2 separate regions of the Homo sapiens genome follow, and region 1 is linked to region 2. The links come from fine-mapping of genetic effects on plasma protein levels. Region 2 holds a variant in brackets. A gene starts in the other region. All regions are shown on their reverse strands.

What was found. PIP is the posterior inclusion probability: the model's chance that the variant is causal. Protein levels are from antibody-based Olink assays in UK Biobank. Linkage for the fine-mapping came from a reference panel and not from the study's own genotypes, which makes the PIPs less certain.
Region 1: it holds the start of SIT1, and the variant in region 2 is fine-mapped to the plasma level of the SIT1 protein (UK Biobank, PIP 0.96).

Annotation. Positions count from the first base shown.
Region 1 is chr9:35,650,664-35,657,553 of GRCh38, reverse strand. It overlaps SIT1 (signaling threshold regulating transmembrane adaptor 1), which reads left to right and starts at 6,623. Exons shown (of 5, transcript NM_014450.3): 1 at 6,623-6,800. The coding sequence starts at 6,701. RefSeq lists an enhancer at 1-498 and a silencer at 6,843-6,890.
Region 2 is chr16:30,633,804-30,650,041 of GRCh38, reverse strand. No RefSeq gene overlaps it. Among named protein-coding and RNA genes, the nearest start is that of PRR14, 9.0 kb to the left of the region's middle. RefSeq lists enhancers at 1-360, 14,674-15,624, 15,625-16,238. The variant T/AT (reference allele first, on the strand shown) is at 8,739.

The sequences.
Region 1 (6,890 bases), not on the chromosome of region 2:
CCTCGCCCTCCCAAAGTGCTGGGATTACAGGCGTGACACCGCGCCCGGTCAACGCGGCTGCTTTTCATGCGCGGGCAGCTTTACGCTGTTCTTGGCCTTGCTATGAAGTCCTTGTGCTCATTACTCCAAATATGGAGCATTCCTGAAACAGCCTCCTCTTCTACCTCCCTCTCCCTTTGGCAAACGCCATAGTAGCCACCATTCACTGTGTAGCTGGTACACAACATATGGACTCTGCTTGGGCTAGAATCCTGCCTCCTGTACTCAAGAGCGGTGACCTTGTGAAACTTAGTTCTCTCTCCGTGCCTTCCTTTCCACTCTGAGGAATGAAGATAAGCACTTACTTCAAGAGCTATGATGATTAAATGGGATCACTCAAGTTAGAACCGTGCCTACTTATTAGTGATTTTTTTTTTTTTGGAACGGCGGGTCGCTCTCTTGCCCAGGCTGGTCTTAAACTCCTGGGATCCTCCCGCTTCAGCCTCCCGGGTAGTTGACATTACAGGCACGTGCCACCCCGACGGACTCTAGTGATTTTTTAACTTGAGCAGCTACTACTGTAAGCCAGACAGTTGAAATTACACTGACTCTCCCTGACATGCCGCTGCATTCCCTTTCTGCATACTGGGTTCTACACGACCTTCAGTTCTCAGCTCAAGTGTGTTCCCATCATTCGGAACCCTTAATTCAACTTCTAATTTATTCTTTAGTGCCGCTATTTCACTTTCTTCAATACCACTAGACAAGCAGTCCCCAACCTTTTTGGCATCAGGGACCGGTTTCGTGGAAGACAATTTTTCCATGGACGAAGCGGGGTGGAGGGATGGTTTCCGGATGAAACTGTTCCACTTCAGATCGTCAAGCATTAGATTCTCACGAGGAGCGTGCAACCTAGATCCCTCCCATGCACAGTTCACAATATGGTTCGCGCTCCTATGAGAATCTAATGCCGTGCTCATCTGACAGGAGGCGGAGCTCAGGCGGTAATGATTGCTGGCCCCACTGCCCACATCCTGCTATGTGGCCCGGAGCCTAACAGGCCACAGGCTGGTGCTGGCCTGTGGCCGGGTGTTGGAGACCCTTGAGCTAGGCTGGTCCTAAATTCCACAAGGGCAGGAGCCACCTCTCTTTTTTCTTTACCATTTTACTCCCAGAGCCTAGCACAGCACGTGGCGCCTGGCGATAGCAGGCACTCAATGAATCGTTGTTGAATGAAATTAATGAATGGTTAAAATGACCCAAAAGGGTAATATAGTTAAGCTCTTTCAAAGAATGAGGCAACTGCAATTCAGCAAGGTTAAGTATGCTACTAATCAGGTAAGAGGCAGGGTGGTGATTTCACCAGTTTTTTGCCTGTCTCTATACCTTCTGTCGAACAGCCTTTCCCCATCCTTGTCTTCCATGACTTCACCAGGCAGGCAGGTATTCCTTCTGTTCCACAGAGCCTTCCATGGTCTCTTAATTGGGATACACTGGGTCATCTGTCTAGTTAGATCAAGAGCTCCCTGACATGAAACCATTTCCATTCATCACATTTTTATCTCCAGAGCCTGGCATACAAACAGGCAATCAGTACATCATGTGTGTTAAATAAATGAATGAAGCCAAGATCGGTGGCTTATGCCTCTAATCCCAGCACTTTGGGAGGCCGAGGCAGGAGGATCACCTGAGGTCAAGAGTTTGAGACCAGCCTGGCCAACATGGCTAAATCTCGTCTCTATTAAAAATAGAAAAATTAGCCGGGTGTGGTGGCGGGCGCCTGCAGTCCCAGCTATTTGGGAGGCTGAGACAGGAGAATCACGGGAACCTGGGAGGTGGAGGTTGCAGTAAGCCGAAATCGTGCCACTGCACTCCAGCCTGGGCAAACGAGTGAGACACCGCCTCAGAAAAACAAAACAAAAACAAAAATTAACCAGGTGTGGTGGCCAGCACCTGTAATCCCAGCTATTCAGGAGGCCGAGGCATAAGAATAGCTTCAACCTGGGAGGCGGAGGTTGCAGTGAACAGAGATCGCGCCACTGCACTCCAGCCTCAGTGTCAGAGCAAGACTCCATCTCTAAATAAATAAATAAATAAATAAATAAATAAATAAATAAATGAAATATGGGTGTGTCTTCTTGTTTTTCCTGAAAGGAGGAGGAAGGGCAGGACAGGGAGAAACCCTCACCAAGGGGAGTTATCATAGTGTAGTTCAAGGGTCCCCAACACTATTGGTCCATGGCCTGTTAGGAACTGGGCCGCACAGCAGGAGGTGAGCAGCGGAGGAGCAAGGGTGAGCGGCGGAGTAGCGAGGGAAGCTTCATCTGTATATACAGCCACTCTCCATCCTGGCATTACCGCCTGAGCTCTGTCTCCTGTCAGATCAGTGCAGTGTTAGATTCTCATAGGGCCACGAACCCTATTGTGAATTGTGCATGCACGTGATGTTGTGGGCTCCTTATGAAAATCTAGGCCAGGTGCAGTGGCTGATGCCTGTAATCCCAGCACTTTGGGAAGCCAAGGTGGGTGGATCTCTTGAGGCCAGGAGTTCAAGACCAGCCTGGACAATATGGTTAAAAAAAAAAAAAAGTCTCTAATAAAAATACAAAAATTAGCTGCGCATGGTGGCGCATGCCTGTAATCCTAGCTACTTGGGAGGCTGAGGCATAAGAATTGCTTGAACCCAGGAGGCGAGGTTGCAGTGAGCCAAGATTGCACCACTGCACTCCAGCCTGGGTGACAGAGCGAGACCCTGTCAAAAAAACAAAACAGAACAAAAAAACCACAATACCTGATGATCTGAGGTGGAACAGTTTTATCCCAAAACCATCCCCTCCTCCCATACTCCTGTGCATGGAAAAATTGTCTCCCACAAAACCTGTCCCTGGTGCCAAAACGGCTGGGGACCAGTGGTCTAGCTGATGACCCAGTGACAGCCTGGGTACGCAAAGCAGGGTAATAGAAATCTTGAATCTAAGCCAGTTGGCACAGTCGGTGTAAATAAGGGGTTCAGGCCAGATATAATAATGATAAGTGGTCCCCAACTGATTATTGCCTTTAGAGAACTCAGGGCACTATTGCCAGATCTTTTTTTGAAGGAATCAACAAATTAGAATTTTAAAAATTTGAAATCTCCCAATTTTTAACTGTTGACAAGGAATCAGTGGCATACTTAGCATATTTGACACCAAGTGGTCTTTGTGTGTGTGTGTGTGTGTGTGTGTGTGTGTGTGTGTGTGTGAGAGAGAGAGAGAGAGACAGGGTCTCCCTCTGCTGCCCAGTCAGGAGTGCAGTGGTGAGACCATGGCTCACTGCAGCCCCAAATTTCTTGGATCAGCCTCCTGAGTACCTGGGACTGCAGGTGCACACCACCATGCCCAGCTAATTTGTGTGTTTTTTTGTTGTTGTTTTTTGTTTGTTTGTTTGTTTGTTTTTTGTAGAGACCAGGGTATTGCCCAGGCTGGTCTTGAACTTCTGGCCTCAAGGAATCTGCCTGCCTCAGCCTCCCAAAGTACTGGGATTACAAGTGTGAGCCACCTTGCCTGTTCCGGATCATTTAAAAAACATTTTTCTTTCTTTTCTGTCTTTTTTTTTTTTTTTTTTTGAGACAAGCTCTCACTCTGTTGCCCAGGCTGGAGTGGTGCAGTGGCACAATCATGGCTTACTGCTGCCTCTATCTCCCAGGCTCAAGCAATCTTCCCACTTCAGCCTCTTAAGTAGCTGTGACTACAGGCACACATGCCCCCATGCCTCGCTAATTTTTTAATTTTTTGCAGAGATGGGAATCTCACTATGTTGGTTAGGCTGGTCTCAAACTCTTGGGCCCAAGCTATCCTCCCACCTCAGCCTCTCAAAGTGCTGTGATTACAGGTGTGAGCCATCACACCTGGCCCAAATTTTTCTTTCTTTCTTTTTTTTTTTTTTTTTGAGATGGAGTCTTGCTCTGTCGCCCAGGCTGCAGTGCAGTGGAGTGATCTTGGCTCACTGCAGCCTCCACCTCCTGGGTTTAAGCAATTCTTGTGCCTCAGCCTCCAGAGTAGCTGGGATTACAGGTACCTGCCACCATGCCCGGCTAATTTTTGTATTTTTAGTAGAGACGAGGTTTCACCATGTTGACCAGGCTGCTCTCAAACTCCTGACCTCAGGTGATCCACCCACCTCAGCATCCCAAAGTGCTGGGATTACAGGCGTGAGCCACCATGCCCAGACCCAAATTTTTCTTGTTTTCTTTCTTTTTTTGGGGGTGGGGGGCAGGGTCTCACTCTGTTGCCCAGGCTGGAGTGCAGAGGCTTGATCTTGGCTCACTGAAACCTCTACCTCCTAGGCTCAAGCAATCCTCCCACCTCAGCCTCTCGAGTAGCTGGGACCACAGGCGTGCACCATCACACCTGGCTAATTTTTTGTATTTTTGGTAAAGACGGGGTTTTGCCATGTTGCCCAAGCTGTTCTTGAACTCCTGGGCTCAAGCGATCCTCTTGCCTCACCCTCCCAACGTGCTGGAATTGCAGGCATGAGCCACCATGCCTGGAACAAAGTTTTATTTTTCAAGTGGATCATTTAAAAAAATGCTTTATGGCCAGGCACGCCACTTCTCTCCAGCCTGGGCAAGTGAGCCGAGATTGTGCCACTGCGGTCTGGTCTGAGCGACAGAGGGAGACTCCATCTCAGATAAATAAATAAATAAAATTAAAACAAATTTAAACATTCTTTATATGACAAAATTATTCTCAATGGCAATTATAAAATGAATAATAAGGGCCAAGAAATAAACTCAGTGAATATTTTCTTTCCTTGAACTTTGTAAATATAATCATGTCAGCATAAAAACAGCCATGCATTGCTTAACAACAGGGATATGTTCTGAGAAATGAGTCACTAGGCAATTTTGTCATTGTGCAAACATCATAGAGTGTATTTTCACAAACCTAGATGGTGTAGCCTATTACCCATCTAGGCTACATGGTATAGCCTGGTGCTCCTAGGCCCCAATGCTTACAGCATGTTACCATACTGAATACTGTAGGCAGTTGTAAGACAATGGTATTTGTGCATCTACTGTAGAGACAGGGTCTCTCCGTCTGTCGCCCAGGCTGGAGTGCAGTGGCATAATCATAGCTCCCTGCAGCCTCCAACTCCTGGGCTCAAGTGATCCTCCCACCTCAGTCTCCCAAGTAGCTAGGACTACACGCTTGTGTCATCAGGCCTGTCTACTGTTTTTGTTTGTTTTTTGGTAGAGATGGAGGGTCTCACTATATTGCTCAGACTGGTTTTGAACTCCTGGCCTCAAGCAATCCTCCTGCTGCCTTGGCCTCCAAAGTGCTGGTATTACAGGAATGAGCCACTGCACCTGGTCCACTACAGCAATTTAAAAGTTAGATCTGGGCTGGGCGCAGTGGCTCATGCCTGTAATTCCAGCACTTTGGGAGACCGAGGTGGGCAGGTTGCTTGAGGTCAGGAGTTGAGACCAGCCTGGCAACACAGGGAGACCTATCTCTACAAAAAATGAACTAGATTAGCTGGGTGTGGTGGCACATGCCTGTAGTCCTAGCTGCTTAGGTGGCTGAGATGGGAGGATCACTTGAGCCCGGGAGATCGTCAAGGCTGCAGTGAGCTGAGATTGTGTTACTGCACTCCAACCTGGGAGACAAAGTAAGACCCTGTCTCAAAAAAAATATAAAACTTAGATCCATAAAATATTTTTCAGGGAGGATAATTTTATCACTGATTTTTTTTTTCAGAATTTCTGGAACATGGTGATAATAAGAGGACTGATTTTTATTTTTTAAATTCTCTACAGACAATGCACCCCCTTATTGCCTGCAACTCAAGGGGCAGGACTTCTGCCATCCCTATTGTTGGCATGCCACTGCACTGATTTTAAACTTTTAAAAAATGTTGTATGGGCTAGACAAAACACATCTCTGACTTCTGGTCTCAGGTTTATATTTGCAACTTAAAATCCCTCTTCCTACATCAATAGCCTTGCACGTGATGGAGTTAGCTCTAGGTATGGCAGGTACTACACCCGCTGAAGTGAACATGTGCAAGATAGGGCTCAGTTTCCCAGGACAGTCCTACAGCAAAGAGTTTTAAAATGCAATTAATTATTGAGAGTGACAGTTCTTACAGACAGTTTGGATGAAGTGGGTTGAAAGGGGAGGTTTGGGGGTGTCCCCCAAATTATAATGCCCCCAATGAAACAATAACAAGCATCATCTAAACACATATCCTCTCAGATCAGCCTTAGGGTGTGATGGGATCAGAGGTACCAGGAGGCTCCCCCGACCCTTCCACTTTATACCATACTCATTGAGGAATACATCTTTCTTCTGGGACCAGAGTCAGGGAGGAAGGTGGGCATCCTGGAGCAGAAGGGGTGTTCCTGTCCTTGTTAGTCCTGCTTCACACCACTTCTGCCCCCACCCCCCGCCCTCAGAGTCCTCAGGGACTCAACTGCCCGTGGCACATTACCCACAGGCCTGCTTCTCTTCTCAAGGGGGGCAAAGGGCCTGGGCAGCGAGGGTGGGGGAAGCTCAGGAGCTGCAGGAGTGGCGCAGGTGCAGGCACAGGGCGGGGTCTTTGTTCTTTTTTTCATCCCTCCCCTCCCCCTTCCTCCCCGGAAACCAGAGACTTTGCCACCACCAGTATTGGGGATGCTGAGCTGCGGGGTACGGGCCTGAGGAGGGATGGGAGTAAGAAGTGCTGTGGAAACCGTCAGGCCATGAACCAGGCTGACCCTCGGCTCAGAGCAGTGTGCTTGTGGACTCTCACATCTGCAGCCATGAGCAGAGGCGACAACTGCACGGATCTACTCGCACTGGGTGAGCTGGGCAGGGCAGGGGCTGGTGGGGGAGGGGTCATGTGGCCCCAGGTCCCACCTGCTGGGCCCTGGGGGTGGGGCGGGGCTGTTA
Region 2 (16,238 bases):
AGAATATACCTTGGCTTGCTAGTGGGGCCCGGCTCTCAGGAACCACTGTCTCAAGTGGGGCCCGCAGGATGGGGGAGGTGTAAATAGTCCTGAGGAGTAAGGGATCAGGGTGGGACGCTGCTGCTTGGAGGAGCTGCGTCATGGACCCTTTACTGGAAGCTGGGCTGTTGGTGGGGAGGAAGTGGGCATGTAGTGGCTTCTTGCAGCGCTATGAAGGTGCCCTGACCGCTTAACCAAAGCCCATGTCTGCACTAGTTCTCCTTCCCCAGATTCCCTGGTCCAAACCAGTACTTCTTTTCTTTTTTAATTTTTTTTTTTTAATTTGAGGCAGGATCTCGCTATGTTGCCCAGGCTGATCTTGAACACCTGGGCTCAAGTAGTCCTCCCGCCTCAGCGTCCCAAAGTGCTGGGATTACAGGCGTGAGCGCCCAGCACGAGTCCTTATTTTGTTTTCTTAACAGAACGAGAGACCCTGAAGCCTAGAATCCTGGGTCCGAGATAAGGTGCAGAGGTGCTTCCTGGTTTAGGTGTCATAATTCTCAGGGGATTGAGTGATGAAAGTGATAAAACAGGGCCGGGTGTGGTGGCTCACACCTGTTATCCCAGCACTTTGGGAGGCAGAAGATAGCGGATCACTTGAGGCCAGGAGTTCAAGACCAGCCCGGCCAACATGGCAAGACCCCATCTCTAAAAAAAAAAATACAAAAAAATGAGCCGAGCATGGTGGCGCACGCCTGTAGTCCCAGCTACTCAGGAGGCTGAGGTGGGAGGCTCTCTTGAGCCTGGGAGGTCGCAGCTGCAGTGGGCTATGATCGCGCCACTGCACTCTAGCCTGGGCGACAGAGACCCTGTCTCAAAACAGACAAACAAACAAGGGATGATATGGAAAGCATAATCGAGAAGGGCTTATGTGGGAAATGGAGGCTCCCCAGCTCCGTCCCTAAGGACTCATGCAGGGAGACGTTCTTGCAGGACTACAGCATCTCTGTAACAGGAGGTCCGCTGGGTCCTCTGGAAACCCATTCAGACTTCTGGTGGGAGCAGGCCGCCGTGGTTCTTCCACGTAGAGGTGTTTCTCTCCCTCTGGATCAGGGCTGGCAGTATGGGTGCCTGAGGAGGTACAGTGATGTTTCATCCAGCTGTGAGTGCTTGGAGATTCTTTCAACCTTGCCAAATTAAGACCTAAACCCCACAGGTGCTTTTCAGGCCCCAGGGCAGGAAAAACTTTCAAAAGCAGAGCAGGCCTAACCTGAGTTTTTAGGTATTTTTTGTTTGTTTGTTTTTTGTTTTTGAGACGCTCTGTCGCCCAGGCTGGAGTGCAGTGGCGCCATCTCAGCTCACTACAACCTCCGCCTCCTGGGTTCAAGCGATTCTCGTGCCTCAGCCTCCCAAGTATCTGGGACGACAGGTGCTCACCACCACGGCCGGCTAGTTTTTTGTATTTTTAGTAGAGACGGGGTTTCGCCATGTTGGCCAAGCTGGTCTCGAACTCCTGGCCTCAAGTGATCTGCCCGCCTCGGCCTCCCAAATTGCTGGGATTATAGGCATGAGCCACCACACCTGGCCCTAATCTGAGTTTTGATTCTCTAGGTCTCTTGAAGTCAATGACACCAAGGGTAAAAGATGTAGTCCAAAGAAAAGTCCTGGACCTGAGTATTTGGTAGGAAGAGCCCACCAGTGTGACCCTAACTTGGGGTGCTAGAGTTCATCAAATGGAAGTCTAAGGTAGACTGTGGCAGTCTTGGCCCTTAGCCCAGGCCAGCAAATGTGAGCCCTCATGATCTTGCGGTCTCACCTCTGCTCTTTTTGTGACTTCCCATTTCAACAACTTTACTTTGCCCACTGCCTACACAGGTGGTGGACACACTGTGGGGTGTACCACAGTGTATGCTGATGCATTAGCAAGAGGGCCCCACACAGCCTCCAGTGGGGCTGCTGGTGTGGCCGTGGGTGCACTTCAGTGTGTCATTATTCAGAAACTCAGGGTCCGTTTAGACTCTGGGCGGCCCATCTTTCTTTTTTCTTTTCTTAGACAAGGTCTTGGTCTGTCACCCAGGCTGGAGTGCAGTGGTGTGATCATGGCTCACTGTAGCCTTGACCTCCTGGGCTCAAGTGATCCTCCCACCTCAGCCTCCCAAGTAGCTGGGACTATAGGTGTCCGCCACCACGCCCGGCTAATTTTTTGTATTTTTAGTAGAGATGGGGTTTCACTGTGTTAGCCAGGATGGTCTCGATCTCCTGACCTCGTGATCCGCCCACCTCGGCCTCCCCAAGTGTTGGGATTACAGGCGTGAGCCACCGCGCCTGGCCTGGACCCTTTAAATATATATATATATTTAAATTTTTTTTACCAGCCAGCATCATGCTAAGTTTTGTCAATAGATGGCTGGAGAGACATTGCAGGAAGAAAGAGTTTTGCTTCCCAGTTCAGCAAACCCTCCTGGGAGGCTCCTGCAGCACAAGTGGGTTCCCAGCTCCCTGCTTCTGCAGGGCAGGGTGGCCAGCAGAACCCCAGGGTCAGCAGCTCCCCCAGGTGCCCTCTGGATGGTTTTGCAGTGGAGTTCCTCTGTGGAGACACCTGCCCATGAACAGCTTTCCCTGGCACCCAAGAGGGTGGATTTCCAGCAAGTTCCACCAGACTGACACTCCAGCAACTACTGTACTTCAGCGACTTCTGTACTTCTGTGCCCTCTCCAAAAACTTGTGGATCTCAGGAAGGAAGGAGGTCTGTCTTTCTTTCTTTCTTTCTTTTCTTTCTTTCTTTCTTTCTTTCTTTCTTTCTTTCTTTCTTTCTTTCTTTCTTTCTTTCTTTCTTTCTTTCTCTTTCTTTCTTTCCTTCCTTCCTTCCTTCCTTTCCTTCCTTCCTTCCTTCTTTCTTTTTCCTTCCTTCCTTCCTTCCTTCCTTCCTTCCTTCCTTCCTTCCTTCCTTCCTTCTCTCTCTCTCTCTTTCTTTCTTTCGACAGGGTCTCACTCTGTCACCCAGACTGGAGTGTGGTGGCTCACCACAACCTCCGCCTCCCAGGCTCAAGCGATTCTGCCTTAGCCTCCCAAGTAGCTGGGATTACGGGCACATGCCACCATGCCTGTCTAATTTTTGTATTTTTAGTAGAGATGGGGTTTCACCATGTTGACCAGGCTGGTCTCAAACTCCTGACCTCAAATGATCCACCCGCTATGGCCTCCCAAAGTGCTGGGGTTACAGGCATGAGCCACCGCGCCTGGCCAGAAGGAGCCTTTTTCTTGTATGCTCTGTCTCCGCCTGAGAGGAGCTGTGGCTGCTCCTTGTATTAGGTTGGTGCAAAAATAACTGTGGTTTTTGTCATTAAAAGTAATGGCAAAACCGCAATTACTTTTGCACCAACCTAATATCTGCTCTTCTTGCATTTTTTTTTTTAGAATTCTGTTTACTTCTTATTATCTGTAGTGGGCAGAATTTTGTCTCCCCACCTCCCCCCCACCCCACCAAAGATATTTTCAAATCTTGAACCTTTCACTTCCTCTGAATCTGACCTTATTTTGTTGTTGTTGTTGTTGTTGTTGTTGTTGCTGTTGTTGTTTGACACAGGATCTTGCTCTGTTACCCAGGCTGCAGTGCAGTGGCTGGATCTTGGCTCACTGCAGCCCTGACCCCCTGGGTTCAAGCAGTCCTCCTGCCTCAGCCTCCCGAGTAGCTGGGACCACAGTCACATACCTCCACACCCTGCTAATTTTTATTTTTATTTATTTATTTTTTTGAGATGGAATCTCGCTCTGTCACCAGGCTGGAGTGCAATGGCGCGATCTCGCCTCACTGCAACCTCCACCTGCAGGGTTCAAGTGATTCTCCTGCCTCAGCCTCCCAAGTAGCTGGGACTACAGGTATGTGCCACCGTGCCCAGCTAATTTTTGTATTTTTAGTACAGACAGGGTTTCATCATGTTGGCCAGGATGGTCTCAATCTCTTGACCTCGTGATCCACCTGCCTTGGCCTCCCAAAGTAATTTTTAATTTTTTTTTTTAGTATAGACAAGGTCTCACTATGTGGCCGAGGCTGGTCTTGAACTCCTGAGCTCAAGCAATGCTCCCGCCTTGGCCTCCCAAAGTGCTGGGATTACAGGAATGATCCACCACGCCCAGCCATGACCTTATTAGGAAATAGAGTCTGCAGATGTAATCAAGATCATACTGGATTAGGATGGGCGGTAATATAATGACTGGTGTCCTTGCAAGAAGAGGGAAATTTGGACACAGACACATAGAAAGGAGAATGTTATGTGAAGACAGGCACAGACGTACAGAGGGAGAATGCCATGTAGCAATGGAGGCAGGAATTGGAGTGTGGCATCTGCAAGCCAAGGAATGCCAAAGATTGTCGGCAGCCACCAAAAGCTTGGAAAAGGCAAGGAAGGATTCTTGCGAGGCGGGGTGGCTCACACCTGTCATCCCAGCACTTTGGGAGGCTGAGGTGGGAGGATTGCTTGAAGCAAAGAGTTTGAGACCAGCCTGGGCAACAAAGCGAGACCCCATCTCTCCAAAAAAAGTAAAATAAATTAGCGGGGCATGGTGGTGCATGCCTGTAGTCCCAGCACTTTGGGAGGCAGAGGTGGGAGAATCACTTGAGCTCAGAAGTTTGAGGCTGCAGTGAGCTATGACTTGCATTCCAGTCTGGGAGGTGGGGTGAAGCTGAGCCCTCTTGAATGAATCTGTGGTAATTTGTTATGTCAGTTTTAGAAAAATAATACACAATCTAATCATTTCTCTAATCCTCTGTTATTGTTATATTATTATTATTTTTTTTGAGATGGAGTCTCACTCTGTCACCCAGGCTGGAGTGCAGTAGCATGATCTCAGCTCACTGCAACCTCTGCCGCCTGGGTTCAAGAGATTCTCCTGCCTCAGGCTCCCGAGTAGCTGGGACTACAGGTGCCTGCCACCACCATGCCCAGCTAATTTTTTGTATTTTTAGTAGAGATGTGTTTTCACCGTGTTAGCCAGGATGGTCTCGATCTCCTGAACTCGTGATCTGCCCGCCTCGGCCTCCCAGAGTGCTTGGATTACAGGCATGAGCCACTGCACTTGGCTATTGTTGATTTTTTTAAAATATTAAACCTTTCCTTGTTCAAATTACCATGTGGTTTCTCTGTCTTGATTTGACCCAGACTTAATCATCACCAACAAATGTAGGTACTAGTGTTTCAGCATTAAATAAAATGGAATATCTGAATTTTGAAAGTCCCCACTTGCAATTACTGTGCAGATATTTTAGAGGATGGGCCATTTGCAGGAGAGGTGTAAAGTCTGCATTGCAGACATAATCCTTAAAGTCGTTTTGAATGCTGCTGTCACACCTGAAAAAAAAAAAAAAAAGAAAATGAGCACTGATGGTGCCTCTGAGGACAGATGGCTCAGATGAAGTGGAGGAAGCTGGGCTGGGCAGCTGCCAGCTTGTCTAAAGGTGATTCCTGGCATCCTATACTTTCATGTGGAGGCCAGATCTAGGCAACATTCAGAAAGCGAGTCCAGCCGGGGATGGTGGCCTGCAACTGGAGTCCCAGCTACTCCAGAGGCTGAGGCAGGAGGATCACTTGAGCCCGGTAGGTCAAGGCTGCAATGAGCTGTTTATGGAGCCACTGAACTCCAGCCTGGGCAACAGAGTGAGACCCTGTCTCTAAAAAAAAAAAAAAAAATTTCCAGATAGAGGTGTCTGGAGATCAATACTCATGGCTAGAGTGGCAATGCTGAGGCATTGAGGTCTAAGAGACAGAAAACAGATTCACACCACTGTGACCTTTGCTCTAGAGAAAGAGGAAGGCCTAAACATGGGACAGTCAAGGTTTTTGTGGGGGCAGGAGGGCTCTAAATATGGGCTGAGGTGTCTATTTATTTGTTCAGTACATTTGTTGAACTCCAGCAATGAGCCAGACACAAAAACACTATGGTGGACAAGACAGTGAGCGTCCTTGTCTTCAGAGACAATGAAATAGACCAACACGATGAGATAAATGCTCAACTCAACTTATGTACAGGTTCCCAAAAGGGCACATTGCAGAGCTACAGGAGAATGCTTCCCAGAGAAGGTGATGAACAATGTGACTTTAAGGAAAGGGAGTTGGGAAGGAAGACTGTGCATCAGTCATCACTGCAAGTGCAGAGATCCAGGGGCAGAAATTGAGGAGAATGTAGATAATTTGGTTGTCAGCCCATCAGAGCTAACACATGCCTTTTTTTTCTTGAGACAGAGTCTGGCTTGGTCACCCAGGCTGGGTGCATTGGCGTGATCATAGCTCACTGTAGCCTTGACCTCCCAGGCTCAAGTGATCCTGCCACCTCAGCCTCCCAAGTAGCTAACACTACAGGCACATGCCACCACACCCGGGTAATTAAGAAACAATTTTTGGGCTGGGTGCGGTGGCTTATGCCTGTAATGCCAACACTTTGGGAGGCTGAGGTGGGCAGATCATTTGAGGTCAGGAGTTCAAGACCAGCCTGGCCAACATGGCAAAACCCCGTCTCTAACAAAAATACAAAAAATTAGCCCAGTGTGGTGGCTCGAGCCTGTAATCCTAGCTACTTGGGAGGCTGAGGCAGGAGAATGCTTGAACCCGGGAGGTGGAGGTTGCAGTGAGCTGAGATCATGCCACTGCACTCCAGCCTGCCCGAAAGAGCAAGACTCTGCCTTAAAAAAAAAAAGAAAAAAAAGAAAAATTTTTATAGAGATAAGGGTGGTCTCGCTATGTTGCCCAGGCTAGTCTTGAACTCCTGGGCTCAAGTGATCCTCCTGCCTCAGCCTCCCAAAGCTCTGGGATTACAGGTGTGAGCCACTGGGCCTGGCCACACGTCTTAAAAAAAAAAAAAGTTTTTTTTGTTTGTTTGTTTTGTTTTTTCTTTTTTGAGACAGAGTCTCGCTCTGTCACCAGGCTGGAGTGCAGTGGCACAATCTCGGGTCACTGCAACCTCCGCCTCCTGGATTCAAGCAATTCCCCTGCCTCAGCCTCCGGAGTAGCTGGGACTATAGGCACGTGCCACCATGCCCAGCTAATTTTTTGTATTTTAGTAGAGACGGGGTTTCACCATGTTGGCCAGGCTGGTCTCAATCTCCTGACCTCGTGATCTGCCCACCTCGGCCTCCCAAACTGCTGGGATTACAGGCATGAGCCACTGTGCCCGGCCAAAAAAAAAAAAAAAAGTTTTGAACACTCCTTTTACTCTGATGAAATTAATGAATAGATAAATAAAACATCTATAATACTACTTTTAAAAGTCAATATAGGCTGGACACATTGGCTCATGCCTGTAATCCCAGCACTTTGGAAGGCCAAGGCAAGCAGATCACCTGAAGTTGGGAGTTTGAGACCAGCCTGGCCAACATGGCAAAACTGCGTCTCTACTAAAAATACAAAAAATTAGCTGGGCATGGTGGTGTGCACCTGTAATCCCAGCTACTCAGGAGGCTAAGGTGTGAGAATTGCTTGAACTGGGGAGGCAGAGGTTGCAGTGGGCCAAGATCGTGCTGCTGCAGTCCAGCCTAGACTCTGTCTCAAAAATAAATAAATAAATAAATAAATAAATAAATAAATAAATAAATAAATATTACAGGCTGGGCGCGGTGGCTCACGCCTGTAATCCCAGCACTTTGGGAGGCCGAGATGGGTGGATCACCTGAGGTTGGGAGTTTGAGACCAGCCTGACCAACATGGAGAAACCCCGTCTCTACTAAAAGTACAAAATTAGCTGGATGTTGTGGCACATGCTTGTAATCCCAGCTACTCGGGAGGCTGAGGCAGGAGAATCACTTGAACCCGGAAGGCGGAAGCTGCAGTGAGCCGAGATCGCACCATTGCACTCCAGCCTGAGCAATAAGACCGGAACGCCATCTCAAAAAATAAAAAAATAAATAAATAAAAATAAAATAAAAAATAAATGTTACAACTACACGGTGGGCATGGTGGCTCACAACTGTAACCCCAGCTACTTGGGAGGCTGTGATGGGAGGATTGTTTGAAGCCAGGAGTTCAAGACTCCCATCTCTAACAGAAAATAAAGAAAAATAAATTGAACTAGTGGTTACTCTTGTGGTAGGGTAGTAACTAGGAGGGACATGAGCCTTTAGGATGCTACAGATGTTTTGTTTTGCTTTGTAGAGACAGGGTCTCTGCTGGAGAGAAGTAGAGTAAAGAAAAAAAAAAGGAGGGAGGGTCTTGCTCAGTTGCCCAGGCTTGAGTGCAGTGTTGCGATCATGGCTCACTGCAACCTTGAACTCCTGAGCTCAAGCAATCCTCCCACCTCAGCCTCCTAAGTAGCTGGGACTACAGGTGTGAACCCCCATGCCCAGCTAAATATATATGTATATATTTTTTGTTTTGTTTTGTTTTTGTAGAGAGGGGGTCTCACTCTGTTGTCCAGGCTCCTCTTGAACTCCTGGCCTCACCCATTCCTCCCCAGCCTCAGCTCCCAAAGGGCTGGGACTGTAGTCATGAGCCACCACACCCAGCCAATGTTTTGGTTTCTTGATATGGGTACTGGTTTCTTGATATGGGTGTGTTTACTTTGTGACAATGCATTGAGCCTACACTTAGGGTTTGTGCACTTTTCTGTATTACATTATTCTTTAAAAAATTTTTTAAATACGCTGGGAGCAGTGGCTCACGCCTGTAATCCCAGCATTTTGGGAGGCTGAGGCAGGCAGACTGCTTGAGTTCAGGAGTTTGAGACCAGCCTGGGCAATATGGCATAACCCTGTCTCTAAAAAAAAAAAAAAA[T/AT]TAGCCAGGAATGGTGGTGTGAGCCTGTAGTCCCAGCAACTCCGGAGGCTGAGGTGGGAGGATGGCTTAAGCCCAGGAGGCAGAGGTTGCAGTGAGCTGAGATGCCACGACTGCAATCCAGCCTGGGCAACAGAGCCAGAACCTGTCTCTCTCTCTCTCTCTCTCTCTCTCTCTATATATATATATTTTGGCTGGGCGCAGTGGTTCATGCCTGTAATCCCAGCACTTTGGGAGGCCGAGGCAGGTGGATCACGAGGTCAGGAGTTCAAGACCAGCCTGGCCAATATGGTGAAACACCATCTCTACTAAAAATACAAAAATTAGCTGGGCATAGTGGTGCATGCCTGTAGTCCCAGCTACTCAGGAGGCTGAGGGAGGAGAATCTCTTGAACCTAGAAGCGGAGGTTGCAGTGAGCTGAGATTGCACCACTGCACTCCAGCCTAGGCAACAGAGCAAGACTACATCTCAAAAAAATAAAAATTTAAGTAATGTATATGTCAGTATGTAATGCTTGGGTAGGGCTTTGCTAGGAGATTTGGTGAAGTTGTCATATTGAAGTTGTCATATGCTTGTACCCCCCATTTTTTCCCCACTACCTTTTTCTTCCAATTAAGCTGAGCTTCCCTGAGTCCTGAATAATCCTTTCACCTCCCAATCCCTGCAGATCCCGCCTCAGATGCTGAACCTTGTGCTCTAATTCCGTGGCCTGAAAGCAGTGGCTCTCCTCAGGGGCAGTGCCACCCCTTAGGGGTTGTTTTGTGAATTTTTAGGAGGGGGTGTTTTGGTCGCAGTGAGTGATGGAGGACCTCTGGCATTAATGGGTTAACCCATGGGGATCAGTTGTGTCCTACACAGTGCCAGACAGTCTCACTTAGTGAAAAACTGTCCCTCCTCCACCATCATTTGCAGAATGCCCCATGGCCATCCATGTACATGAGAACAGGTTAATAACTGAGTAGAGAATCTAAATTCATTTTTTATATAAACACGAACATATACGCATGGTTTTAATCCTGACTTTTCATGATTACAGGTGCACACCAGCATGCTCAGCTAATTTTTGTATTTTTAGTAGAGACAGGTTTCATCATGTTGGCCAGGCTGGTCTTGAACTCCTGACCTCAAGTGATCCACCTGCCTCACCTCCCAAAGTGCTGGGATTATAGGCATGACCACCACGTCCAGCCCTAATTTTTATTTTAAGAGACAGGGTCTTGCTCTGTTGCTCAGGCTGGAGTGCAACGGTGCAGGCATGGCTCACTGCAGCCTCTAGCCACTGGGCTCAAGCGATCCTCCCGCCTAAGCCTCCTGAGTAGTTGGGACTACAGGCACGCACTGCCACGCTCAGCTAAGTTTTTATGTTTTAATTTTTTGTAGAGACAGGGTCTTGTTTTGTTACCCAGGTTATCTTGATCTCTTGGACCCCAGCAGTCCTACCACTTCGGCCTCCCAAAGTGCTGGTATTATAGGCATGAGCACCTGACTCTGTTTTCTTGTTTTATTTATTTATTTTTTTTGAGACAGGGTGTCACTCTTTTGCCTAGGCTGGAGTGCAGGGGCACAATCTCACCTCATTGCAACCTCTGCCTCCCAGGCTCAAGGGATCCTCCCACCTCCACCTCCCAAGTAACCGGGACTACAGGCGCACACCACCATGCTAGGACAATTTTTTATTTTTTGAGAAGGAGTCTTGCTCTGTTGCCCAGGCTGGAGTGCAGTGGTGCAATCTTGGCTCACTGCAACCTCTGTTTCCTGGGTTCAACCAATTCTCCTGCCTCAGCCTCCCGAGTAGCTGGGATTACAGGCACCTGCCACCACACCCTGATAATTTTTGCTTTTCTTTTTTTTTGAGATGGAATCTCACTCTGTTGCCCAGGCTGGAGTGCAGTGGCATGATCTTGGCTCATTGCAACCTCTGCCTCCCAGGTTCAAACAATTCTCTGCCTCAGCCTCCCAAGTACTGGGATTACAGGTGGCTGCCACCACACCCAGCTAATTTTTGTATTTTTAGTAGAGACGGGGTTTCACCATATTGGTCAGGCTGGTCTTCAACTCCTGACCTCGTGATCCACCCGCCTCGGCCTCCCAAAGTGCTGGGATTACAGGCATAAGCCACCGCATCCGGCTGCTAGGACAATTTTTTATTTATTTATTTTTGTTGTTGTTGAAACAGAGTCTTGCTCTGTCGCCCAGGCTAGAGTGCAGTGGTGTGATCTCGGCTCACTGCACCCTCTGCCTCCTGGGTTCCAGCAATTCTCCTGCCTCAGCCTCCTAGGTAGCTGGGATTACAGGCGCCTGCCACCACATCTGGCTAATTTTTGTATTATTTTATTTCATTTTATTTTGTAGAGGCGGGGTTTCGCCATGTTGGCCAGGCTGCTCTCAAACTCCTGTCCTCAGGTGATCCTCCCGCCTCAGCCTCCCAAAGTGCTGGGATTACCAGCGTGAGCCACTGCGCCGGTCCGTTGTTGTTGTTGTTGTTGTTGTTGTTGTTGAGACAGAGTTTTGCTCTTGTCATCCAGGCTGGAGTGCAATAGTGCCATCTCAACTCACTGCAACCTCCGCCTCCCAGGTTCAAGTGATTCTCCTGCCTCAGCCTCCCCAGTAGCTGGGATTACAGGTGCCCACCACCATGCCCGGCTAATTTTTGTATTTTTAGTAGAGATGGGGTTTCACCATGTTGGCCAGGCTGGTCTCGAACTCCTGACCTCAGATGATCTGCCTTCCTGGGCCTCTCAAAGTGCTGGGATTACAGGCGTGAGCCACTGTGCCTGGCCTCAGAATGAACATTTTTAAATAAAATAACTGATTTATCCTAATCTACCAGTACATAATGGACTCTCAGGACTGGCAGGGAAAAGCATGGAAAGGAAGGACTCAGATAACACCCATGTTTTGGGACATTAGGTCTAATATTGCTAGTAACAGGAGGGAAGTCTAATTGAGTAGTCAGTGAAAGTTTCTAGGAAAAATAAACTCATAACCCAATAATCATGTGAAAATATTTAGCAGCCATTTAGATGTGTTGGCCTAGAAGGGGGTTACTCAACCTCAGAGCAATTAATATTTTGGACCAGATAATTCCTGTGAAGAGCTGTCCTGTGCATTGTAGGATGTAGTATTAATAGCAGCATCCCTAGCCTCTACCCACTAGATGTCAGTAGCACCTACGTCTCCTCCCTGTCTTTCTGCCCATTTGTGACAAACAAAAATGTCTCCAGACATTGCCAAATGCCCTCTAGGAGCAGTCACCCCCAGTTGGGAATCACTGGCCTACAGTATATTGAAACCAAGGCAAAGAGGGTGGAGGCTTGAACCTTGGGGAAATATATTTTATTTATTTATTATTATTATTATTATTATTATTTTTTGAGATGGAGTCTTGCTCTGTCGCCCAGGCTAGAGTGCAGTGGCACGATCTCGGCTCACTGCAAGCTCCGCCTCCCAGGTTCATGCCATTCTCCTGCCTCAGCCTCCTGAGCAGCTGGGACTACAGGCACCCGCCACCACACCCAGCTAATTTTTTGTATTTTTAATAGAGACGGGGTTTCACCGTGTTAGTCAGGATGGTCTTGATCTCCTGACCTTGTGATCTGCCCGCCTCGGCCTCCCAAAGTGCTGGGATTACAGGCTTGAGCCACCGCGCCCGGCCTTACTATTATGTTTTTTTGCGATGGAGTTTCACTCTTGTTGCCCAGGCTGGAGTGCAATGGTGCGATCTTGGCTCACTGCAAGCTCTACCTCCTGGGTTCAAGTGATTCTCCTGCCTCAGCCTCCTGAGTAGCTGGGATTACAGGCGGATGCCACCACGCCCGGCTAATTTTTTTTTTTTTTTTTTAGAGTTTCGCTGTTGTCCAGGCTGGAGTGCAATGGCACGATCTCAGCTCACTGCAACTTCCGCCTTCCCAGTTTAAGCGATTCTCCTGCCTCAGCCTCCTGAGTAGCTGGGATTACAGGCACCTGCCACCACGCCCAGCTAATTTTTTGTATTTAGTAGAGAAGGGGTTTCACCATTTTGGCTAGGCTGGTCTCCAACTCCTGACCTCAGGTGATCTACCCACCTTAGCCTCCCAAAGCGCTGGATTATGGACATGAGCCAATGCGCCTGGGCAGAAATGTGGTTTTTTTTTTTTTTTTTTTGAGACTGAGTCTCACTCTATCACCCAGGCTGGAGTGCAGTGGTGCGATCTCAGCTTGCTGCAACCTCTGTCTCCTGGGTTCAAGCTATTCTCGTGCCTCAGCCGCCTGAGCAGCTGGAATTACAGGTTCACACAACCACACCCAGCTAATTTTTGTATTTTTAGTACAGATGGGGTTTCATCATGTTGGCCAAGCTGGTCTTGAAGTCCTGACCTCAAGTGATTGGCCCGCCTTGGACTCCCAACGTGCTGGGATTACAGGCATAAGCCACCGCACCTGGCCAGAAATGTACTTTTAAAATGAAGGGTGGCCGGATGCAGTGGCTCACTCCTGTAATCCCAGCACTTTAGGAGGCTGAGGCATGAAGATTGCTTGAAACAGGAGTTCGAGACCAGACTGGACAACACAGTGAGGCCCCGTTTCTGGGCACACTTGTGATTTCAGGCACAAGTCACCACGTGGGGGCTTCATCTAATTATTACCTCTGTATATTTTCCATGGTTTCCCATCTTTTACCTCTTTCATTACTACTGCATTTGTTTAGATTCTATCATCCTTGAAGGTCCAGCTGCAACAGCAGCCCCACCCATGCGTCGAAGCCTTCTGAGGTCTTTCCTTCTTCTGAGCTTCTAGGGCATCTTTTACTGTCCCTTCTGCCCTCCAATTGTGCCACCACCAGCCTGGCCAACATGGCGAAACGCCACCTGCTAAAAATACAAAAATTAGCCGGGTGTGGTGGCACATGCCTGTAATCCCAGCTACTCAGGAGGCTGAGGCAGGAGAATTGCTTTAGCTCTGGGAGGCGGAGGCTGTAGTAAGCTGAAATAGTGCCACTGCACTCTAGCCTGGATGACAGAGACTCTGTCTCTAAATAAATAAATAAATAAATAAGCAGGGCTCGGTGGCTCACACTTGTACTCCCAGCACTTTGGGAGGCTGAGGTGGGTGGATCACCTGAAGTCAGGAATTCGAGACTAGCCCGGCCAACATGGTGAAACCCTGTCTCTACTAAAAATACAAAAATTAGCCAAGCATGGTAGTGCGCACCTGTAATCCCAGCTACACGGGAAGCTGAAGCAGGAGAATCGCTTGAACCTGGGAGGCAGAGGTTGTAGTGAGCTGAGATCGCATCATTGCACTCCAGCCTAGGCAACAAGAGCGAGACTCCATCTCAAAACAAACAAAACAAACAAACAAACAAAATGCTGCTCACCTCAGAGGACTAGATGGAGAATTTTTTTTTTTTTGAGTCGGAGTTTTGTTCTTGTTGCCCAGGCTGGAGTATAATGGTGCGATCTCAGCTCACTGCAACCTCTGCCTCCCGGGTTCAAGCGATTCTCCTGCCTCAGCCTCCCGAGTAAGTGGGATTACAGGCATGCGTCACCACGCCCGGCTAATTTTGTATTTTTAGTAGAGACGGGGTTTCACAATGTTGGTCGGGCTGGTCTTGAACTCCTCACCTCAGGTGATCCGCCCGCCTCAGACTCCCAGAGTGCTGGGATTACAGGTGTGAACCACCGTGCCCTGCCTGGATGGGGATAGTTTTGTAAACTATAGAGTGCCCCCAATTTTTAGTAAAGTTACAAAGAATTTTCACACATTTTGAGTTTTATGGAGCTAGAATGCACATCACAAATACACCTATTTGAAGTGTACAATTCAATTTTTGTGCTAGCATGAAAATTTTAGTGCACTTTCATGACCACAAAAAGAAACTGCATATTCATTAGCATTCACTCCCCATTCCCCCTAGTCCTTCTTTTTTTCCCTGGGCCATAGCGTCTGGCCAATGAAACGGATTTTTGTGCTAGCGCGGCCACAATCAGTACTAGTACATTTTCATCACCCCAGAAAGAACCTCTGTATTTATTAGCATTCACTCCCCTTTCCCCGAGTCCTTCTATAGATTTGTGTATTCTAGATATTTCATATTTTATAAAACACCTTCACACATTTTTACTTGACTTCCAGGATTTTTCTTTTCTCTCTTTTTTTTTTTTGAGACAGAATTCCGCTCTTGTTGCCCAGGCTGGAGTGCAATGGCGCGATCTCGGCTCACCACAACCTCTGCCTCCCGGGTTAAAGCGATTCTCCTGCCTCAGCCTCCAGAGTAGCTGGGATTACAGGCATGCGCCACTACGCCCGGCTAATTTAGTAGAGACGGGGTTTCTCCATGTTGGTCAGGTTGGTCTCGAAGTGTGATCCGCTCAAAGTGCTGGGATTACAGGCGTGAGCCACCGTGCCCAGTCCAGGAGGATTTTTCTTTGTAAGAACCTTTTACAATGATCTGTGGGGGTCCATCCCTCCTATTTTACAGGAGAAAATAGACGGTTATCTAGGCTTTGTGAGTGCCAAGTTCGCACGCGGCTTTCGACTCCGTGGCTACATTGTCGGGCCGGGATTTCGCGATTTCGAGGAGGGATGCTCGGCCTCCTCCTACTAGCGTGGTTGGGGCCTCGGCCAGGGCCGAGTTCCGCGGGGGAGAGCCCCAGGGTTCTGCCACCGCACCGTTGACCTAGAATGCACGTGGGGACAGCCAAAGGTCCAGTCTCCAGTCTCGGAACCCGCGGGCCCCCGAACACGTCTGCCTGCTTGGTCTTCTTTGAACCCAAGTCCCACCGCCCACCAGGATCCTAATGACGCCGGCCTGGGGAACTCCCACGCACGCGCCGTTCAAACGCCCCGCCCTCCGCGGCCCAATCACCGCACACCTTGTTTGGACGTTCGACCAGAAGCGTCCTATCAGCGAGCGCGATCCTAGAGACTGACCAGGATCCGTGACGCCCGTTCGGGTGGGCAGTGCCAGTGCGCTGAAGGGCAAGCCTCAGGGGAAGCTTGTTCCTTATTTAGTAAGATTAGCTTGACTAAGGGAGCGAAGGGCGTCACACTGCTTTTGGAAACAGGTGGTGAGGCTGGCGTCGCCATGTTTTCTAAGGGACTTTCTCAGGATCAGATCCAAGAGTGGTCCTTTAGGGCTTTTTTTTTTTTTTTTTGAGACGTTGTCTCGCCCTGTCACCCAGGCTGGAGTGCAGTGGCGCGATCTCGGCTCAGTGCAACTTCCGTCTCTCGGGTTCAAGCAATTCTCCTGCCTCAGCCTCCAGGGTAACTGCGATTACAGGCTCCCGCCACCACGCCAGGCTAATTTTTGTATTTTAAGTAGAGACGGGATTTCACCATATTGGCCAGGCTGGTCTTGAACCCCTGACTTCCAGTGATCCGCCAACCTCAGCCTCCCAAAGGGGCTTTTAAATGTAAGGGCCGCGCAGGGGCTCCGGGTAGGGCATGAAAGGTTGGGAGGGGCCCTAGCCATTGTCTTTTTTGTTATTGTTAAGGCTGACTTTTTTTAGGCTGTCGCCCAT